Linked DNA regions of Homo sapiens: region 1 is linked to region 2. Evidence: fine-mapped expression QTL. A gene starts in region 2. The other region holds a variant in brackets. All regions are shown on one strand. Distances are from middle to middle.

Region 1 (10,808 bases), 370 kb before region 2:
TTCCAGTTACTTGGGAGGCTGAGGTAGGAGAATCGCTTGAACCTGGGAGGTAGAGGTTGCAGTGAGCCGAGATCATGCCACTGCACTCCAGCCTGGGTGACAGAGAGAGACTCTGTCTCAAAAATAAATAAATAAATAAAATGCAATTCTTATCGGTGTTTACAGTATGCATCACTTGGCAGTCTGGCCATATTAGCGTCAGTTTACGACACAAATTTGTTAGCATCATAAAATTACGCTAAAATCCTTTAAGCTATTATAGATTTCCTCTCAGTTACTGTGAAATCAACAAACAATCCATCACTTCCTCTTAGATTCTCACCCAAAAGATATCTTGGTTGCATTTCTTCTAGAACATACTTCCCTCAACTACCCAAATTAAACATATTTCAAGCATCATTAATTGATTAGATTTACAAAGAGCTCTGAATGAGTTCAAAGGCACTCTGGATGAGTGAAAAGGCAATTGTTCATTTTCTTCAAGTACCTTCACCTTTCCTTTCACTCGGGAACGAATGTTTTCTAATAATTTTTCTTATGAAAGTGTTACCTATCTTCTGTCTCTTCCCCTAGTCTTATATTTCATGCTAATGCATGCATTTCAGTTTCCATTTTACTGACATTACTGTTTGTTATAATGTTATTAAAATTCTTCTCTTCACAAATTTTTGGACTGACGAAAATATTCAGTCATTACATTTCCGTTTTGCAAATAGCAAGTTAGATGCTGGGCCGGGCGCGATGGCTCACGCCTATAACCCCAGCACCTTCTGAGGCCGAGGTGGGTGGATCATGAGGTCAGGAGATCAACACCATGCTGGCCAACATGATGAAACCCTGTCTCTACTAAAAATAAAAAAATTAGCTAGGCGTGGTGGGGCGCGCCTGTAGTCCCACCTACTCTGGAGGTTGAGGCAGGAGAATTGCTTGAACCCGGGAGGTGGTGGTTGCAGTGAGCCGAGATCCCGCTACTGCACTCCAGCCTGGAGATAAAGCGAGACTCCGTCTCAAAAAAAAATAAAATAAAATAAAGAAAGAAAGAAAAAGAAAGTTAGCTGCTACATCACTCACTATTCCAATGTTCCTTACATTTGAAATCTGTAGATTAATAATCATAAAAGAATAAAATTAAACACTGATTCAAACAAATATGAACAGACGTTTGTAACTTAGGTGTTATCCAGAAAAAACAACAACAACAACAACAACAACAACAAACAACTTTGATTTTTGCTTGAAAATAAAGTCCTGAACTTTTTTTTTTTTTTTTTTGAGACGGAGCCTCGCTCTGTCGCCCAGGCTGGAGTGCAGAGGCGCGATCTCGGCTCACTGCAAGCTCCGCCTCCCTGGTTCACGCCATTCTCCTGCCTCAGCCTCCCGAGTAGCTGGGACTACAGGTGCCTGCCACGGCTAATTTTTCTGGTATTTTTAGTAGAGACGGGGTTTCACCGTGTTAGCCAGGATGGTCTTGATCTCCTGACCCCGTCATCCGCCCACCTTGGCCTCCCAAAGTGCTGGGATTACAGGCGTGAACCACCGCGCCCGGCAGTCCTGAAGTTTTAAAACTAGACCAACCAGTGCTATGATACTGCTTAATTCCCATAGGCATGTAGCAAATTTGTATTTTCTTCATTTGCTGAAAGAAAAAAGAAAAACACCATAACCTTTTGTCTCTACCTTTGAGCAATTTAATAAAATTAAACTTTGAAAGAGATTAAGAGTAGTAATCAAAGTTCCAAATATAGCTAAGAAAAAGCTAACTACTCTGGTGGAAGTTACGTATATTTGAAGCATTTTTCCTCAATATAACATGGAATTAATAGGAATTCACTCATTATGCATGTTCTAGTATAACCTTAAATGCCCACAGGTTATTCCTAATTTTCTGGAGAAATAAAAGTCACATGGCATTTTTCTATGCTTAAACAGAGAACAATTATGGATTTTTTAAGAAGGGAGAGAAGGAAACATGCATACTTCACTTATGCCCATAACTTCTAGAGCTTTTATGTTTCATATGAAAAACAGAAAATACATTTCTAATGTGTCATCAATTCTTTTGAACTTCTAATAATTTGAATGTACATTTTATAGCAAATAGCTTAATGATCACATCATGCAGCTGACTTAATTCTCAAAATGTCTTTGTAGTTTTATTATTCTGTAAAAGCAAACTGTTTCACCAAAAATTGTACTAGGTCAAGCTTTTACAAGAAAAATATTTATTATATTGTCCATTAAAGCTTACCAATTAATTACCAAGTTTAGTCAATGGGGTTCCTTTGAACTGCCTGTGAGATGAGTATTTTATTACTTATTATTATAATAATGAGTAGATTTGAAAGATTTTTACCTTACAAAATATCAATGGTTTATTTCACAATGTTATTTGTTAAACCAAAGCATTAGTCATTCTCTTCTTCTACTTTTCTCCTTCTTCCCCTTTCCCTTTACTTCTGTATAAGCTTTTTTAATATTTAAGATATGAAGAAATCCAACATTATACATCATTAAACCATGGCCAAATTCACAATAAAATGTGCCTGCAATCCTTTAAAAAAAGGATTATGTATACAGAACTACGTGGAAAACTTGCTGTTCTCAGAAAAGAACAGAATGAAACAGATAATAAATAAATTTCTATATCCAAGGTAGATCTTTCTTTTTACAGGAGGTCGGGTAAGTTCATACAGAAAAACTCTACAGAATGGGCCTGTCGTTAAAAATAAACGAAGCAAGGATTATTGGGTTTAGATCATTTTCTTAAGAATCAAAAAAGTTTTTCTAGGGCTTTGGCTAAGTACATGAAGATAAATGATGCCCAATTCTGGTTTTGCCAAATAACACAAGTCTTTTCAGAAACTACAAATTCCAGTGGCTCTGGCAGAATGAATATCAACCTAGGTCAGTTCTCCATAACCAGAACCCACAAATTTGCCAGTCCACTTCACATCTCAACTATTAGATAATAGCAGGCAAGATGCATGTTCCTGGTGGGCACAGTTGTTTATGTGGTGATTCTTCTTTGAGTTGTTGGTGTTTTCTCGCTTTCTTCCCTCCCTTCCTCCCTTTCCTCCCCTCCCCTCCACCTAATAGAGGGCCCACCTCTCTACAGGGTGCTCACCTCTAACTGTCTCCAGCAGTAGAAAAGGAAGTCAGAAAGCTAAGCAAGGCCTGGGTCAGGAGAGCTATTTATTTTCATGATGAGAAACCACCGCAGGGCTCTGGGAAGGGAAGTGGCACAGTCTGATTTATCTATTTAAAAAATCCATGTAAAGAGTATGGGGCGGGCAGGGGCAAGAATGGAAGCAGAGATGCCAGGTAGGAAGCAATTACAAGAATCCAGAGAGGAATGGTTGCAGGTTGCTTGGACTAGGGTGGTAATACTGTAGGTTCAGGATATATTTTGAAGATAAAGGCAACTGGTCTTGCTCATGTGGGCACTGAGAGAAACTGGGGCCAGGGAACTAGGTAAATTGTGGGGTGGGTGGGGAAGAGAGGGAAGGATGCTACTTTGACTGAGATGGAAAACAATGGGGGAGAAGTTGGGTTTGAGTTGTGTGGGGGCTTCAGGAATCTTTTGACCTTAAATGTAAGATGGCATCAGACATACCAGTGGCACTAGAAGCTGTGGAAGCACAGGAATAATCTAGAAATCGGTTGAGAGCTTTGGCTAGAGATTTAAATGTAGGACTCATCAGTTTATAGGCATCATTGGTGTATTTAAAACCATGGACCAAGGACCAGGCGCGGTGGCTCATGCCTGTAATCCCAGCATTTTGGGAGGCCGAGGCAGGTGGATCATGAGGTCAAGAGATCGAGACCATCCCGGCCAACATGGTGAAACCCCGTCTCTACTAAAAATACAAAAATTAGCTGGGCATGGTGGCATGCGCCTGTAATCCCAGCTACTCAGGAGGCTGAGTCAGGAGAATCGCTTGAACCCAGGAGGTGGAGGTTGCAGTGAGCCGAGATCGCGCCACTGCACTCCAGCCTGGGTGACAGAGCGAGACTCCATCTCAAACAAAACAAAACAAAACAAAACAACCATGGGAAAGGTGAGATGACCTAGGATATGAGTGTAGGTGGAGAAGAGATTAAAAACAAAATGAGGCCCGCATTCCACTATTTAGAAGTCAGGACATGTGAGGGTGTGATAAGCAGCCACCAGTGATGAAAGTGCTTCAGGAAGGAGGGATGGATCCGCTGTGGATTGCGTAGTAGTTGAGTCATGAGAGAACTGATTGGCATGACTTCAAGAGGGAAAATGGGAGGGGAGGAAATGGAGGCAACAAAGAGACAATAAATGTTCTCTCTAGGAGCTTCACGATAAGTGTGTGCTTGCAGAGCCAAGAAAGAAACTTGCTGGAGGAGGGCTGGTCAGTGGGGAGTGGGCGGGGGTGTTGGGGAAGATAAGAAGGGATTTTTAAAAGATTTTAACGGGCTATGTATATAATTTTAACACTCTGTATCCTGATTGTAATAATTCACTAGAGAGAAGAACAAAGTGATGATGCCAGAAAGAAAATGTAACTTCAGTAGGTGAAAGGAAAAAGGATATGGTAAGAAAGTGTGTGTAAAAGGTTAGTAGATTTTTTGTTTTGATGATTTTTATTTTCTCAGGGAAACAGGGAGTGAGGTCATCCACTGAGAAGGTGGAAGGGATACTGAAGGTTTGAGAGAGGAGGAGAAACTATGAATGAGTCCTTCCCAGAGAAGTGACCAGCTAAGATTACTAGAAAATTTGGGGCCCCTTGAGCCTTATGGTCATCAATTTAATAAGCCAGTCAGGAGTAGTATTGCTGGTTTTTCCTTCTGTCATGTTCAGTTTTTCTGATGCAGGTATGGAGTAAGTGAGTTGAAAAGACAGGAATTGTCAAAGACAGTGCTTAAAGATGAGGTTTCACAGGTGGTACAGCTACTTATAATGGCCAAGTCTGGTTGAGAATGGCCTGAGTGGGTGGCTGAGATAGAGTGAAAGAAAGATTGTTGGAAGGAAAGTGCTCAAGGAACTAAGAGAACCAAAGCTGGATAAATTTTCTACCTGAGAGCTGGAGTTTCCAAGAATGACAGACAGCCATGGGAAGAAGAGGTGTCAAACCAGCGCTCAAAAGCTTCTATGAATGATGGTCAGAATCAACAGGAAGCTGTACAAAATGTGTCCAGAACAGTAGTAGGTAGAATAGTGCAATGGCTTAAAATTAAAAGGAAATGGAATTTTTAATTGCAAGATAAATGGTCTGGAAGTGGCAGTAAGGAACAAGAAAGACACTCATCTCAACTCTGGACCCCATGTTACATGGGCATGGGAGATAAAAATCACAGCAAGTGAAGGATAGAAAATGAATTAAGATCCTTCTAGGGATCTTACAGGGCCTTAGAACTACATGGTAAACACCACCATGTCTGGCACAGAGCCAAAAACACAACAGGGTTTGAACAAATACTTGGGTTTTAACTAAAAGGAGTTTAAAAGTATCATCAATTCTGTAGACAAACAGCCTAGATATGGGGCTT[T/C]AGAAAAAGTCCACAAGGGAGTGGTTAAACAGCTTGAGCAAGAGACTTGGAATATATGAGAAAAGGGATGAAATAAAGAAATGACCTGGCCGGGCACAGTTGTTCGCACCTGTAATCCCAGCACTTTGGGAGGCCGAGGCAGGAGGATCGTTTGAGCCCAGGAGTTTGAGACCATCCTGGGCAACACGGTGAAACTTCATCTCTACAAAAAATACAAAAAATTTGCTGAGTGTGGTGGCATGCGGGAGGCTGAGGTGGGAGGATCACCTGAGTCTGGGAGGTTGAGGCTGCAGAAAGCTGTGATCATGCCACTGCACTCCAGCCTGGGTGGCAGAGTGAGACCCTGCCTCAAAAAACAAACAAACAAACAAAAAACAAACAACAAACCTGATCACCTACTGAGTAGCTCCCGACTGCACTCTCAGCTATTTTCTATCCTACTACCTTATCCTTTTCCTTGATTTCTTTGCTAATTATTTGTCTGCTTTTCTAGAATTGCTAATTTTCTGATTCACTACAAATGTATCAGCTTAATTACTATTTCTTTTGCTCGTCACTATATACCTAAGGCCTAGCAAAGTGTCTGGCACATATAATGTCCTCAAAGAATACCAAATAAACAAAATAGAGAAAAGCATGGTTAGAAGTAGCCCAATTAAGTTACACTATGCAGAGACAGGCCAATATAGGTTCAATACTTCTAAGGATCCCATCTTTGGGATGGAATTGACATTTAGAAAGAAGGCAGTGAAAAACAAATACTGATTCCTGGGCAACAGATCAGGGAGGCTGCATTCTTGTAGGCAGAGGGCTAAACAGCACTTGACTAAGGAGTAAGCTTGGAGTGGCTGAGAGAGATGTGAGTCAGCTTCCTCGTCTCTACTCAACCATCTTCAAAGTCCTGCCTCATGTGACCTTATTCCTACGATGATCCATTCTGTCCACAGTGGCCTTTCATGTTCTGTACTTCCTGATCTAACAGACAATCGCTATTTCCACTGTACTCCTAGCTTCTACATCACTATTACGTTGCAACTGTGAACACGGACATGTTTGTCGTTTACTGGGTATGTTTACTGAGTAGTTTAGACGTACATTGACATCAGACAGTTTATCTTTTAGATTATAAACTTGTAGAAGCAGGGGTTTGTAGTCTCCATAATGTAATCTTTGGTTCGTTAACTCAGTTTGTTTAGGTCAAGGGTGAAGGTTTAACCTCCAAACGAGTTATTTAGTTTTGCTTTGCTCCACTTTCTCAAACTACCTCCAACTCAGGCATTCTCAGCACACTGAGAAGTGTTAAACCAAGACAGAATAAGAGAAAAAATTCACATTTGAATGAAAATTCCAAACTTTACAATTGCAAACACCATACATTAAAAAGAACAGCAGTGAAATTCCAAAGCACCTGAAAAATGAGTTGCAAAAACAAAAAGGTTTATATAATCTAAAATTCCCGACTGCAGAAATATGTAAATATATATTTAAACTTGAAATATATGGCCATTGCTATTAAATGTAAAGTCAAGTAAATTTATGTTAAAGTAAAATGTAGTGTTCTCATTCCACTAACCATAAACATAGAAGTTTAGAGCTGGGAAGGACCTTGCAGGCCAGGCCCCTTATTTTGTAGACGAAGTAACTAAAGCCTAGAAGGGTTGCTGAGGTACCCAGCATCAGACAGCAGCACAAGTCAGCAGCACTGAAGTGGAGACACCACAGGCTTTGGAGACAGATCCATCTGCATTTGACCCTGATATTCCACCCTTTAGCTGTGTGGCATTGGGAACCCTCACTCTTTCAAATTTCAGTTTCCTCATGTATGAATGAGGGATCATATCACTATGGTTTATTGAGCAGGCCTGTAAAGATTAAAAGTCTTAAACCTGAAGTGCCTAGCACAGAACTTTTGGGCTAAAATGACATAATAGGCTGCGCACCATCGCTCACACCTATAATTCTAGCACTTTGGGAGGCCAAGGCAGGTGGATCACCTGAAGTCAAGAGTTTGAGACCAGCCTGGCCAACATGGCGAAGCCCCATCTGTACTAAAAATACAAAACCCAGGCGTAGTGGCATGCAAGTGTAATCCCAGCTCCCCGGGAGGCTGAGGCAGGAGAACTGCTTGTACTTGGAAGGCGGAGGTTGCAGTGAGCTGAGATCACACCACTGCACTCCAGTCTGGGCGACAGAGCAAGACTCGGTCTCAAGAGGAAAAAAAAAAAAAAAAAAAAAAAAAGACATAATAAAGCCAGATTATAGAATCTTTCCCCTAATGGAATAAACTTAAAATCGCTGTTAAAAGAAAAAAAAGTCAAAAATGTTACCAGAGACCAACCAAGTTAAAGAGAACATCATACCATATTCTGTATAAGCGGTGCCCATGAATAGAAGATTCCTAGGTAAAAAGGGATTGCATTGGAGGTGGGAAAGTTAGGTGGCCAAAATCCTGAAAACTATCATTAACAGCCCCCAATTTGGGGAAAATGGATCTAAGCTAGCATTTTGGCAGCCCAGGGAGGAGATGGAAAAATCCATCCATAGTAAAAAGCTCTTCCTGCCATCACAGGAATCTCCTCAGACACAGAAAAGCAAATCAGAACTCACCATTTTGGCTTTTTATGCCTGGGAGGAAAGGAGAAGAAAAGGGAAATGAGTCATAATCAAGCAAAGCTAATTAATTACAGCCAAACTCTATTATAAAGCTGTATGTAGGAGTCTAACAAATTCAATCATGTATGTGGGATCTCATTGTTGTAGAGCTAATAAAACAAGGACAAGGGCTGGGATGAAGGGAAGGAGATAGCCAATTGCCAGTTGTGTTAAATCTTAGTTGGTGCTAACATGAGGTTCGCTAGTCTGTATCAGAGTTTACTGTATCTTAAACAGTAAACAAAGGTCTAGCCAAAGAGAAAAATAAATAAGGGTGTGTGTGTGTGTGTGTGTGTGTGTGTGTGTGTGTGTGTGTGTGTGTGTGTGTTGAGGGCTGGGAGAGAAGGAGAATTAAAGGCAGAAAATTCCCAGGTGAGGTTCCCTTCCCTGTCTGTGGATTAATAATGCCATGGTAAAAGCATACAGGTTTCTCCTTTCTCCATTAGCTGGAAAGAGATAAAAACACTTGCTGGGGGAAAGATAGGATGTGGCAAGGGAAGGAGACACCTGAGGCTGACATTCTTAGCCAAAACTAATCAAACAAATGGCTTGCAAGCACCTCCTTGAATTGGAGGAATAATCCAAAGCCCCGTATCTCACTCCTCCAGAGATATATCTGTGAATATGTAGAGCAAACCCTGATGCAGGGCATTTAATACAATTACTGAGGAAGAGCAAAGATCCTACCAACAACTGGGATTGTAGGATCCCAGCACGCAGCCCAGCTCAACTAACTCTACCTCATCTCCAGCATGTGGGTCTTCAGGTCGACTCCTCAAACTGAATGCAGCTCTGGGACTAGACCCCGAGGTCTAATTAGAGACGGTTAAAAAGCAAGACAAGGACAATTCACCAACATTAGAGAATGAAGAAAAGATCCTGAGTGAGTTGTTCATATTCAACTTAAGTTTTACAAAGAGAAAAGACTATGACAACTAAGCAGGACTCCCAGAGCAAAGAAAAAAATGAAAGAAAGGGGGAGGGCTGGGAAGGAAGCAAGAATCTAGTTTAGAAGAAAACAGCCCTCTCCACCTTCCTCCAAAAATCTCCGTGAGTGCATTACACTACAAGATTAAAGAAAATAGAAATTAAATGAGACACCAGTGGAAAAAAATGAGATAAAAAGGGAGGTTGCAGAAGGAAACAATAAATTAAACAATAACACTGTAGAACTAATAAACAAATTAGAAAGAAAAGAAATAGAATAGGCACAGGTAAAAAATAGTGACATAGCAAAAACCCTTGGAAACTTGAGATAATGACAGTGAATACGTAAGATGATGATATACAAATTAAGGCAATTTGGGAACAGAGGACAGATAATGACAAACAAATGTAAGTGTCCAAAATAAAGTTGGAACTACTGTAGTAGGTTCCTTAACAAATATTAGTAAACTTTACCCCACCTAACTCCTATCATCATGTATGTAAAAACAGTGTTTTATGGTTCTTTTGGTCTTCTATATGACTACCTACAGAAGCAAACAATAAAAATGAACTGATAGGTCTTGTAAAATTTGCCCTGATGTCTATTTTGAAGTGTTATAAATTCGGTATTTGCGTAACAGTGGTTCTCCTGGAGAAAATCATTAGAAATTTGATCCTACACCCTATTCTTATTCACTGAACAGAAAAGAGAAATCTGGAAGCAATCTGGTAATATAAAACTATTAGTTTATGCTGTTGGAGCCTTTATCTAACAAATTTCCAAAACAACTACAGTCGTTAAAATAGTGAAATTATTATTTCCAAGTGGACATATATTTTTATTAAAAGAACAATTAAGACAGTTTATTTGATATATTTTAACACTTTTCATTAACCAGGGGTCATACACTTGCTAAAATACTTTTCTGGAAGCACAGGTAATATTCAGAACAAGAGTCACAATTGTGCCCACTCAGCATTCCTTCACATTGATCAGAACTCACTTCACTGAGAAGTACTGCACTAAAGGATTTAATGAGACATGCTACTGAAACATAAATGTACATAGCCCGGAGCTGAAGGATTTTATAATAACAAACTCATACACACACAGAACCGCAAATCATTACCTTCACTGCCATTCTGAAGAGAGCTGGCACTTTAGTCGTAAAGTTTTTCCTTAAGTTTAGAAGTGTCCCTGATTGCAAATAATATTCAACAAAAAATTTATAATCTTAAAAAAGATACTGCTAAATAAAATAAAAGCTACATACTGCCTGCCACATGGAAGGTGCTTGATAAACATCAGTTAGATAAATAAGCCTCAAGACTCACAAGACAATACAATGATTTAATTCCCATTGGATATGGTATTGTGGAGGACTCTAAATTTCTGAGTCAGCACCCTTCATTTCATGTTGTTTATAGACTAGCTTTGTAACCAGTATTCTACTCAATAGCTAGAGTATTCACAAATACACTAAAATAATGAAGAATAAGCCACTGTGTAATTAAATATGAATAATGAAGACAGCACTTATAACAGTTTGACTTCTATTTCAAGTGAAAAACAGGAAGTTGCCTAAAAAGTTGCTGTGTTTAAAAATGGGTCTTTTTATGGATTTATAATACAATCAAGGGACCAACTTTTGCAGTTTGTTCTCAAATATTAGGAGATGTAGTTTCTTCATCATTTGAAATGATGACATGGA
Region 2 (10,808 bases):
AAATCTAATCTTATTAAATCCCAAACACTGGCAGGGCACGGTGGCTCACTCCTGTAATCCCAGCACTTTGGGAGGTCGAGGCAGGTGGATCACCTGAGGTCAGGAGTTTGAGACCAGCCTGGCCAACATGGTGAAACCCCGTCTCTACTAAACATACAAAAATTAGCTGGGCATGGTGGTGGGCACCTGTAATCCCAGCTACTTAGGAGGCTGAGACAGGAGAATCACCCCATTGCACTCCAGCCTGCATGACAAGAGCAAAACTCTGTCACAAAAAAAAAATAAATAAATAAAAAATCCCCAACACGGTACAGTAGTTTCCCCTCATCCATGGGGGATATATTCCAAGTCCCAGTGGATACCTAAAACCACAGATAGTACTGAGCTATCATAGAACTAACTAACATAGCACAGAGCACACTATATTTTTTCCTATACACACACACCTATGATAAAGTTTAATGTGTAAATTAGGCATAGTAAGTGATTAATAATAACTAATAATAAAAGTGAACAATGATAACAATATACAGTAATAAAAGTTATATGAATGTGGTCTCTCTCTCTCTTAAAATATCTTATTGTACTTTACTCACTTATTTTGAGACCTCGGTGGACCATGGTTAACTGAAACCTTGAAAAGTAAAACCGTGGATGGGAGGGTGGAGGCTACTATAAACAAATGCAATGAATATTAATTGACAATTAGCATCCAAGACTAATCAACCATTTTTACTTGTCACATTTTCAAGTCTAAGTTTATATTTTAGTTCACAATAAAACACACAAAATGAGAGAAATGTACTAGAAAGCAAAGAAGCACATCAGAAGCTACCCCCTCCCCTATGTGCCTTACTTAACCTGTCCTGCCACAGGTTCCTCTAGAGCCACACGACTGCCAGTCCTGCAGTCAAGGAGGATATTACAGCTGAGGGTTCATCCCGCATGACTTTCAGGGCCATGCAGAAAGTAAGGGCTCCATAAATATTTGTTGAATAGATAAATTATTCAAATGGGTTTTATTTTCGTAGCTTTTAAAAGATTCTTAAAAGAGTCTTGTGACTTCCTGCTTGTTGATTACAACTCCCAGTATTTCCATAAATTGAGACTAGTTTAAAAGGTATTTCAATACCACTAAGCAGTAACAGTCATTCTACAGGAGGTATAAAAGTAACATCAGCAACATAATCACAATACGTTAACTTTTTTTTTTTTTTTTTGTCTTGAGACGGAGTCTCACTCTGTCGCCCAGGCTGGAGTGCAGTTGTGCGATCTCACTGCAACCTCTGCCTCCTGGGTTCAAGCGATTCTCCTGCCTCAGCCTCCCAAGTAGCTGAGATTACAGGCATGCGCCACGACACCCAGCTAATTTTTCTATTTTAAGTGGAGATGGGGTTTCTCCATGTCAGCCAGGCTGGTCTCAAACTCCTGACCTCAAGTGATCCGCCTGTCTTGCCCTCCCAAAGTCCTGGGATTACGGGCGTGAGCCACCTCGCCCAGCCACACAATACGTTAACATTTTATATTTGAAAAGCAACGTACTGTTTACAAATGGCTTTCCCTCCACTATCTCATTTAATCATCATAGGTATTACACAGAGTACAACCAATTCTACCACTGTTGTTTTGATGGCGCAGAGGGAAAAAAGGTTAATTCCAGATCAATCATCACATGAGTCAAGACAGAAAATTTTGAACTGAAAGGAATCTAGAAGTTGATCTTGTCCAACCTCCCAGGAAAACTCGAGAAATGTGTTTTTCTCTTTCATTTTAACCTGACTATTTTCTCCTACCTTATCCAAAAAGCTCTGCACATTGTGTTACTAGTTCTACCTATGAGAAGAAAGAGTAAGATGCTGGTACTGCCTGTTGGGACAGCAGCTAAATGTTTACCCAGAGACTTGGCAGATGTAAACATGGCCTTTAAACCCCATCATGGAAAGGGGAAAAGTTGTGTGCCCTTCTAGGAAGATTCACTCATCAACTGGAAAACAGAGATTTTTATGTTTAAATTGCCACCCTGGCTAAAAGGATTATATCTTGATCATCTTCAAGTTAAGAGTAAAGGATACATTCTGCATTCCCCTGAACAAAACACCTAATCCAAACAGATTTTATCTTGTCTCAGTTTAAAAACTGGTGAAAAAAAGCAGAATTTTCCTTTCCATTTCATATTCATCTGATTCAACAAATAAAATATCGGGCCCTAACTATTAATACATGCCAGAAACCAAGTCAGGCACCGCACCAGGTGATACATCTAATTGATTAGGATTAGCAAATTTCTATTCTTTCTCTCGACTGAAATCAATAAAACCCTGTCTTAAATATTAAAGTACTATCCCTGTCCCTCACCTTGACTGTCACTTCTGAGAACATTTGTTTTAAGAAATCAACAGCGACCCGAAGATCAGTAGAGCTTCTTCATCTGTTTTAATATCTCAATCTTATTAAAAGGATTAATCCTGTTAAGACAAAATAGCACCTCCACCTTTCTCTCCCTTCTTCCTTTCCACTCTCCTCCAAATAAAAAGGTTAAGTGACGACATCCAGCCCAAAGAACAATGAACAATAGATACATACACACACACAGCTCTCTCTTCCAGTTTCCAACAGGAACAACACAAGAAAGTCAAATACTGATTAAAAAGAAATGACACACACCATCATTCTTGTCAGTGCATGGAAAGGGAACTTACTCTAATCCATTCAGCAAAATCTGGAGTCAAACTTGGAATGAAAGGAGCATTTTTTTTCCCTGCAAGGTAAGTAAAAGAACTCAGGAATTTTTTAAAAATAAAATAAGATACCAGATGCAAATAAATTGATTTCTATTCCTCAGAAATAGGGCTTTTAATAAACGCCACACAGAGTATGCATAAGCAAGCAAGTCAATCCGAAAGACAGGAAGAGAAAAATAATGTGTGGCACATCATTTTCTCTGAAAGTCGACAAGCAAAAGGTGAACACAAAAAGGCTACCTCGGGAGGGCTAGTTTTTTGTTTTGAGATGGTTTTTCTGTTTGTTTCCATCCAGTTTAATGCTAAAGAATTTTCTGAAATCTTTTCACAGGGGACACTTGGCACACTCACAAAAACTAAACTGTTTCCTTTAAGATTTCTTTTCTCACCTCCAAAGAGTAGCCACTGGCTTTTATGGGGTTGGTCACTGCACTTGTGAATTTTAGATGGATAAAGTGGCAAAATAATGATTTTTTTTAAATATAAAAGTAAAACTAAGATGTATGGCAAGTAAAGCTTTTTAAAAAGCCAAGTCAAATTTGAGGCCTGCTGATTTTGACACAAAGCTGTTAGTAAATTGGCAAAGAAATTAATCTGCTTTTAGGGTAAACTTGAGCCCAGGTAAAACAAAAAGGCCAAGTCAAATTTGTGACCTGTTGATTTTGACACAAAGCTGTTAGTAAATTGGCAAATAAATTAATCTGCTTTTAAGGTAACCTTGGGCCCACAAACATTCATCCACTCACCTTTAGACTATGCCTATCTAGAGGTTAGCCTGAGTAATTAACCAGAGTTATCAATTTTGTTTTCACTAAGCATTTTGATAGGTTTGGCACCTCAAAGACAGCTTTGTGATGCAATTTATAAATTTAAAACACATCCGGTAAATAAAGAAAATAATAAAATGTCAGAACCACCTGATTTTCTTTTTTAAGAACTATTTAAGTATTCAAAATTAGCTTTTAGTAGTACAGGCAATGTCACCCTTTCCTACTTGGTAATTATCCCAACAAACTTTCGCTTTAATTTAGGCAGACTGCAAGACAAAAACCATGTATTGTATTTTATAAGATAAATTACAAATTAAATCAGTTATTTAACTTAGAAAATAATCTTCTGGCAGCTCTCTTAACTTACAGGGCACCTTGTATTGTGAAGAATGTTCATAATCAGATAATCCCCGTAACCAGCTACAGTACTGGGTGAATAATATCCCTTTATCACAAAGATAAAGGAAGTTACTGCCATCAACAAATGAACAACAAAACAGAACTTGAATTCAGAATTTTAGATCCAGCTCCATTCACAAGGCTATGCATTAACTGCAGTCACCATCCTTTCCCACAAGACCATCAAGCTCTGAAGCATTAGGAGAAACATTTTCTTTATGTACACTAAAATAAGCCCAAATACACAGATAACAGCACAAAGCCGGTCCGGCGTTTCTTGGCCATCAAAGCATGCACAGACTTTCTCAGTACAGCCTTAAGTGTAATTCCTAGAAGGCACTGGCAAATCTCTGCCAGGCCAATCTGCAGTCGAAAACCGAGTGCATGTGTCCAACAAGATGACAGGAGGGTCAATGTTTCTAACCGTCTACTTCAACTCTGCATGGCAATAGCGGTTCTGCCCAACATGGTAAACACAATAATCGTATAGGATCGAACACAAGTCTCTGTAAATGAGGATCCCCTTAAACGCAAACAAGCAACTCTGGGGAAATATAATTTCTGGAACAAAACATGGTGCTCGCATAATTCCACAAAGACACATAGAAGTCCATTTTTAAAATGATGTTCGGTCCCAGCACTGTGCTGACACTTTTCCCACCTAAACTTCTCAGCACAAGCCTGGCCTAAACAGCCGGGTTCCAATCCGTGCACAGTGGAACCGCGGCACGCACCCAAGACCGGAATGGTGGGGCTATACCTGTCCCTACTCAGTCCTGTTCGTGCCAGCCTGCGAGGTAGTTTAGACCCGTCTGCTTTATGGTAATGTGCTTTTAAAACCCCGCCACGACCGAGGTCATAGCTTTAGAGATTTAATAACAATCAAATGACCAGGGCTGCTGGGCACTTAGTGAGCCATTCTGGTTATGGCTCTTTAATAGCACCTGGAGTTCTGCTCCAGGGAGAGAGGAAAACTCCTGCTCCCCCGGAAAGAAAGTCCTCTGCGGAGAGCGCAGAGGGAAGCCAGGAAGCCGATCGCGGGCAGGGGACGCGCCGCCGCGGCCGCCCCATCTCTCAAGCAGCCCCAGCGCGACCCTCGCCCTGCAGCCGTGCTGGCCCAGGCCGCACCTTTACCTGTCAGCTCCACCACCCACCCGCCCTGGAGGCTGCCCCTCCGAGTCCAGGGAAAGGCTTACCAGCCGGCTGCGGGAGAAAGAACCCCAGAGGCATCCTATCCCAAAGAAAGAAAGCAAAAAGGCTGCTCCTCAAGGCAGGGGGCCATCGGGCACGCCGAGATCCGAGAGGCGACATGCCACCCCTGCCCTGCACCTACCAGATAATCCATGTACAGAAACGCCTCAGTTATTCGGAGATCAGACATCCGGCAGCCTAAAGCATCCGGAACGGCTCCGAACCCGGAAAAAAAAAGCAGCGTCTCTGGCTGCGAGCGAGCAGCTCCTGAAAAAGCCAGCAACAGCGAAAATAGCCGAAAGCAGCCGACTAGCCGGAGATTACACAAGGGGCGCGGCGATTGGCCAGGCGGGCGGGCAGAAGGAAAGAAGCGTGCTCATTGGCTGCGGCGCCTATAAAAGGCAGGCCCCAGCTGGTGGCAGGAGAGAAACGCGGGAGTGGTGGGGGATGTGGGTTCCTGTGTGCTGAGCGGAGGAGCCGGGGTGGGGGCGGTGCAAGCGGAAGAAAGAGCCAAGAGAGCGGAAAATCGGCTGGTGCTGTCGCCGCCCGAGTTTTGTGTTTCCACAGCTTTCCAGTTGGGTACAACGGAGCCGAACTCCGTGTTCCCGGGCTGGAGAGCCTTGGTGTCCCCGCCAACCCCCAGTAGGAAGCGAGCGCTGTAACATGGGAGGCGTGGTCGCCACTGATCTTGTCTCCCCCCAGAGCCTTCCTAAAGGCTCTGCCGCCACGAGACTGCACCACCGGGAAAGAAGTGTGTGAAAGTGTACTCCGTAAACAGGCAATCCTGTACGCGACTTAGGGGCAGAAAGACCCTCCGCACTTTTATCATTTGAAAGTAAGGTGGACGATTCCAGCCTGGTGTCCCTGAGGGTACACACAGGCCCCCCGCGCAGCCAGAGGTGACTCAGGAACCCCCCTTCCAACCCCTGCGTAGAACGCCGAACAGTCTTCGGAGAATTCGCTTTCCTCCACGTGAAAAGGAAAAGAAAAACATTTGAGGAGTCGCAGTAGTCACTTGTACTCCCCAAACACACGGGAAGAAGTTGATCAGTTTGCATGCTTGGAGTCAAATTACGCTCAGCACAAATCCAACGCCCCTGAATTAAATGAGCAGTAGAAGCTCTCTGCAAAAAACACAACAGTATTTGTGACCCGGTATTATTTCAGGAGGTAAAAACATCTATAAGCAGATGCATTTGGGACGTATGCATTTCCTGGTAATGTCAATATCGCATTAAGCTAGTGGGTTTGGGCAGGGAAAGCCTGAATCGGACAAGAAGCTGGCTTTTTTTTTTTTTAGGCTATAAATAACCAGACCATGCCAGACACATGTTCTTAGGCTATGTTCTTAGGCTCAGGTGATTGGAGTGCCCCCCCCCCCATCCCCACCCTCAGGGCTTAGGGAGAATGGAAGATAAGGTGGATGCTGTCACCTGTATTAATAGTTAGGGCTTGCATACATACAGTAAAGTTTCAAGAGTGAAACTTCATCGACTGAACTCTTTATGAAGTGACTGCCTGACTCTACACGCGATGTTTTAGGAGTTGAATTTTTACTTTCCCCCTGACACCTTTCTTTTTTGTATCCTCAAGAAACAAATTTCCGTACCGTAAGTTTACCTGGGACTACCAAAACAGTTCTGTTAGATGACCGTGGAATTCACCCCAAATGTGCACATAACCAATAAGGGCGAGGCAGCCCCCTAGAGGGAGCTGTAGGTTGATGAGCCAAGTGATTTTAGGTATGCAGTCTAATTTCCAAACCTGTTTCCTCAGCTGCAAAACGAGAATTCCTACAGCCAGAAAGTTGTGAGGGTTTGGGCGGGGGGCGGGGTTGGGGAAGTTGTTTTTGTTTTTTTGAGACAGGGATTCTCTCTGTCGCCCAGGCTGGAGTGCAGTGGCGCGATCTCGGCTCGCTGCAACCTCCGCCTCGCCGGCTCAAGCATCCTCCCACCTCAGCCTGCAGAGTCGCTGGGACCACAGGTGTGCACGACTACGCTCGTCTAATTTTTTGTATTTTAAGGGTAAAGACAAGGTCTCACTATGTTGCCCAGGCCTGTTTCTAACTCCTGGACTCAAGCAATCCGCCCACCTCGGCCTCCCAAAGTGCTATTAGATCCAATTTTGATTTTCCTTGGCATTCTGTTAATTCAAACACATGTAGGTTTAGAAGAGATTTTCACCTAGATTTTGGAGGAGATGGACGTCCATAAACGTACACTCTTTAGCACAATTTGTTTGAAACTAATTTGGAAAACAAAATCTCTCAATGAGCAGAAATAGTCATGGAACATTTTTTGTTTGTTTTGCTTTTCTTCGTGAATAAGCATATTTAAAATAAGATAAAGGGCTTGAGTTAGCAAAGAGACACCTTATGGACCATTGTCTTAGTGATAAATGATGTGTGGGCTACTGCCCAGTCAGGCTTTCGAGAGGCCTATCAGTCTCTATGCAGAGGAGGATAGCCACTCAGAAGCAGGTGGCTTCTGCCTTTCCTTTAAAAGTTAAGCTTAGGGAAAGATAGTCCTGAACATGTCATTAGGGTCAGTATGGTTCTTGCTGCCTCTAAGAATTAGTATATGGGGCCAAAGCAGGGAGATGAAAGAATATGTTCAAGGAAAAGTTCCAAAGACTGCACCATAATATTCACTTTATTCCACACAATTTGCACATTCATTGTGACTGGCATCAATGAAAACCTTGTAGTCAGTGTAATGTATTAAAAAATCACATATTGCATTTTAGGAAAGAGTCCTTATAAAACAACAACAACAACCTGTAGATTTTGAACTCCATATGGAGCACATTTTTTCAATTAGATGTTTTCTGAGATGTCAGTGAGTCCGCCCCTACAGAGGAAAGAGGCTAACTTGACTGAATTGGTATGAACAGATAATACACTACCCACTACATGAAGCTGCAGTCATAGCTGATAGGGTTGGTAGCACCTATTGAGGTAATCACCTCAATACATGCTTTTTAAAAGAGTGTAGAGAAGTTAGAATGCATTTAATCAACCTACCATACTGTATGCCAAGTAACAGACTGCAATCCAGAACAAGACATGATCTCATTAACCTAGTTCTGCCCTTGCTGTCAGTGAAAAGAATGACCCTCTTCCAGATGCGGAAGAAACATGTAAACTCATGAGGCAATTGCATTAGTGCATAGGTTTTGAGGAAAGAGGCTGATACGGTTTGGCTGTGACCCCACCCAGATCTCATCTTGAATTCCCACGTGTTGTGGGAGGGACCCGGTGGGAGGAAGTTGAGTCAAGGGGGCGAGTCTTTCCCATGCTGTCCTCATGATAGTGGTAAGTCTCATGAGATCTGATGGTTTTATTAGGAGGAATTTCCCTGCACAAGCTCTCATTCTCTCTTGCCTGCCGCCATGTAAGACATGTCTTTGCTCCTGCTTCACCTTCTGCCATGATCATGAGGCATCCCCAGCCATGTGGAACTGTAAGTCCATTAAACCTCTTTCTTTTCTAAATTGCCCAGGTTCAGGTATGTCTTTATCAACAGCGTGAAAACAGACTAATACAGAGGCCATCACTGTTGCTTGTCAAAAGCAAAGAGAAATTATTTTGACAGTCCATACTCTAAAATTCCATAAAGGCTGCTGGCTAGCCAAATTTGGAGGAAAATTTTTTGTTAAACTGTCACTTGCAAGGAATGAAAACAGAAATGCATTTTTGCAACTTGGTCTCCCAACTTTCCAGAAAAATCAACATATTAGTGGTTATTTCCAGCTATTCTTTTGTTGTTTCCAAGGAGAATACTGCCTTCACTAGTTTTGTATCATGCATACACTATCTCACTGAAACTTTTCATAAATCTTTAATGGATACATAAAACTATTGTAAAAATGTACTACTGTGTTAACAAATCCTTTATTAGTTACTACTATTATAAATATTACAGTGAATGTTTGCTTATAAAACTATCCACATCTTATTATCCTAAGAATAATTTCTAGTAATAGAATTACTGGTACAAAGAGTATGAGCACTTCTTTTCTTTTTTTTTTTTTTTTTTTGAGATGGAGTCTCGCTCTGTTGCCAGGCTGGAGTGCAGTGGCACAATCTTGGCTCACTGCAACTTCCGCCTCCCGGGTTCAAGTGATTCTCCTCCCTCAGCCTCCTGAGTAGCTGGGACTACAGGCACACGTGACCACACCCAGCTAATTTTGTATCTTTTTTTAGTAGAGACGGGGTTTCACCATGTTGGCCAGGATGGTCTTGATCTCCTGACCTCGTGATCCGCCTGCCTCAGCCTCCCAAAGTGCTGGGATTACAGGCGTGAGCTATCACGCCCAGCTGAGCACTTTTAATACTCAGTTTTGACCTAGCTTATGTAGTCTTCTTCCTTCTACCCCCCAGCTCCAAAGTAGGGAATGATTATCTTGTCTCATCTTTGCCTTAATATTATTCCTTAATAGCTGAAAGATGGTATCTTTCATTATAATGACTCTTAAATCATGGACACTTCTTTTTCAGAAAAAGTGGTCAGCTCTGCAGAGGTCATCAGGCACTTTTTCTCACTTACCACATCCAATAACTCCTGTGACTTTAAAATTCTCTTCTGAGTCCTTTTTCCCTTTCTCTCCAGTGGATACCTTGACACCCACCTCTGATTTACCCCAGTCCTCTTCTCTGCTTCCTAAACCTAAATGAAGTATCACTGTGTCCCAGAAGATGAACTTCATCAGAACAGGGTGTCCCCACATGAAGCCGCTAACAGAGCTTGATTCATAAATGGAATCAAGCCAATGATTATTGAATGAGGTCAGAGGTTGGAATTAGAGTAGGGTTTTCTGCTCTTAGCATGGTGACCTACTTGCAACTCAAACTAGAGGAACCCCTCACTGAAATAGCTAAGTCTGAAGTTTTTAATCTAAAATATCTCCATGTCAGTTTAAACCTGTTTTCTCTCCTGCAGGTAGATCTTAAGGCCTTGTATGTCTATTTTTCAAAGATCAGTCCTGGCAGTCAAGATGAAGATTTGTAACTACTTAACTAGATGAGCTTGGACAGGTCACCTGTTCCTTCCAGGCTCCTGTTTACTCAGCCAGGGGATAGAGTTCAACTAATCCCTACCATGATTAAGGGTCACTCACCTTTTCCAAAAAGGGCTTTGCTGGGTCTTGGGGTTTTAAAGCAAGATAAGACATCCACTGAAAATGGTAAATATACGAGGGAAAGATAACTAGATCTCACAAGCAACCACCATTCAAGCACCAAATATCAAGAAGCTGTGTAAATCCCTCTCAATACCAACCCCAGCAAGTTCATTTAATCTCTTAGATACATTTCTACATTGCTGATTGTATTAATTTCCTATTCTGCAAGCCAGTTATGAGCCTTATGGAACTAAAATAAAGGTGTTGGAAGAGCTAAAAGAGTTAATAGATAGATGGAGGCCATTAGTGAATCACACTCATTGCAATTGGGCAGCAAGTCCTTTCTTGAATTGTGAATCTCCTTTTCTGCCACACACGTGTGTCTGAATCTCCCTCAACAGCCTGGCTTGACACCTTGCATGTAGCCCTGGCACCACTAAAGATTGATTGGTTGCTTAGAGCATAGACCTCACTATTTACAGCCAGCCTCATTGTGTCAATATGTCACTGCCTGAGCATACTTGTTAGTACTTCCTGACACAGTCAGCTCCAAGTGAAGGAGAAAAATCAACAAATCCATTAGGCC

The links.
Region 1: its variant is fine-mapped to the expression of ARL15 in monocytes after LPS (Fairfax 2014, PIP 0.95).

Annotation. Positions count from the first base shown.
Region 1 is chr5:53,938,725-53,949,532 of GRCh38, forward strand. All of the region lies in intron 4 of ARL15 (ARF like GTPase 15), which reads right to left. Among named protein-coding and RNA genes, the nearest start is that of MIR581, 7.5 kb to the right of the region's middle. The variant T/C (reference allele first, on the strand shown) is at 5,518.
Region 2 is chr5:54,305,189-54,315,996 of GRCh38, forward strand. It overlaps ARL15 (ARF like GTPase 15), which reads right to left and starts at 5,385. Exons shown (of 5, transcript NM_019087.3): 1 at 5,244-5,385. The coding sequence starts at 5,291. RefSeq lists an enhancer at 1-147 and a cis regulatory region at 8,146-8,493.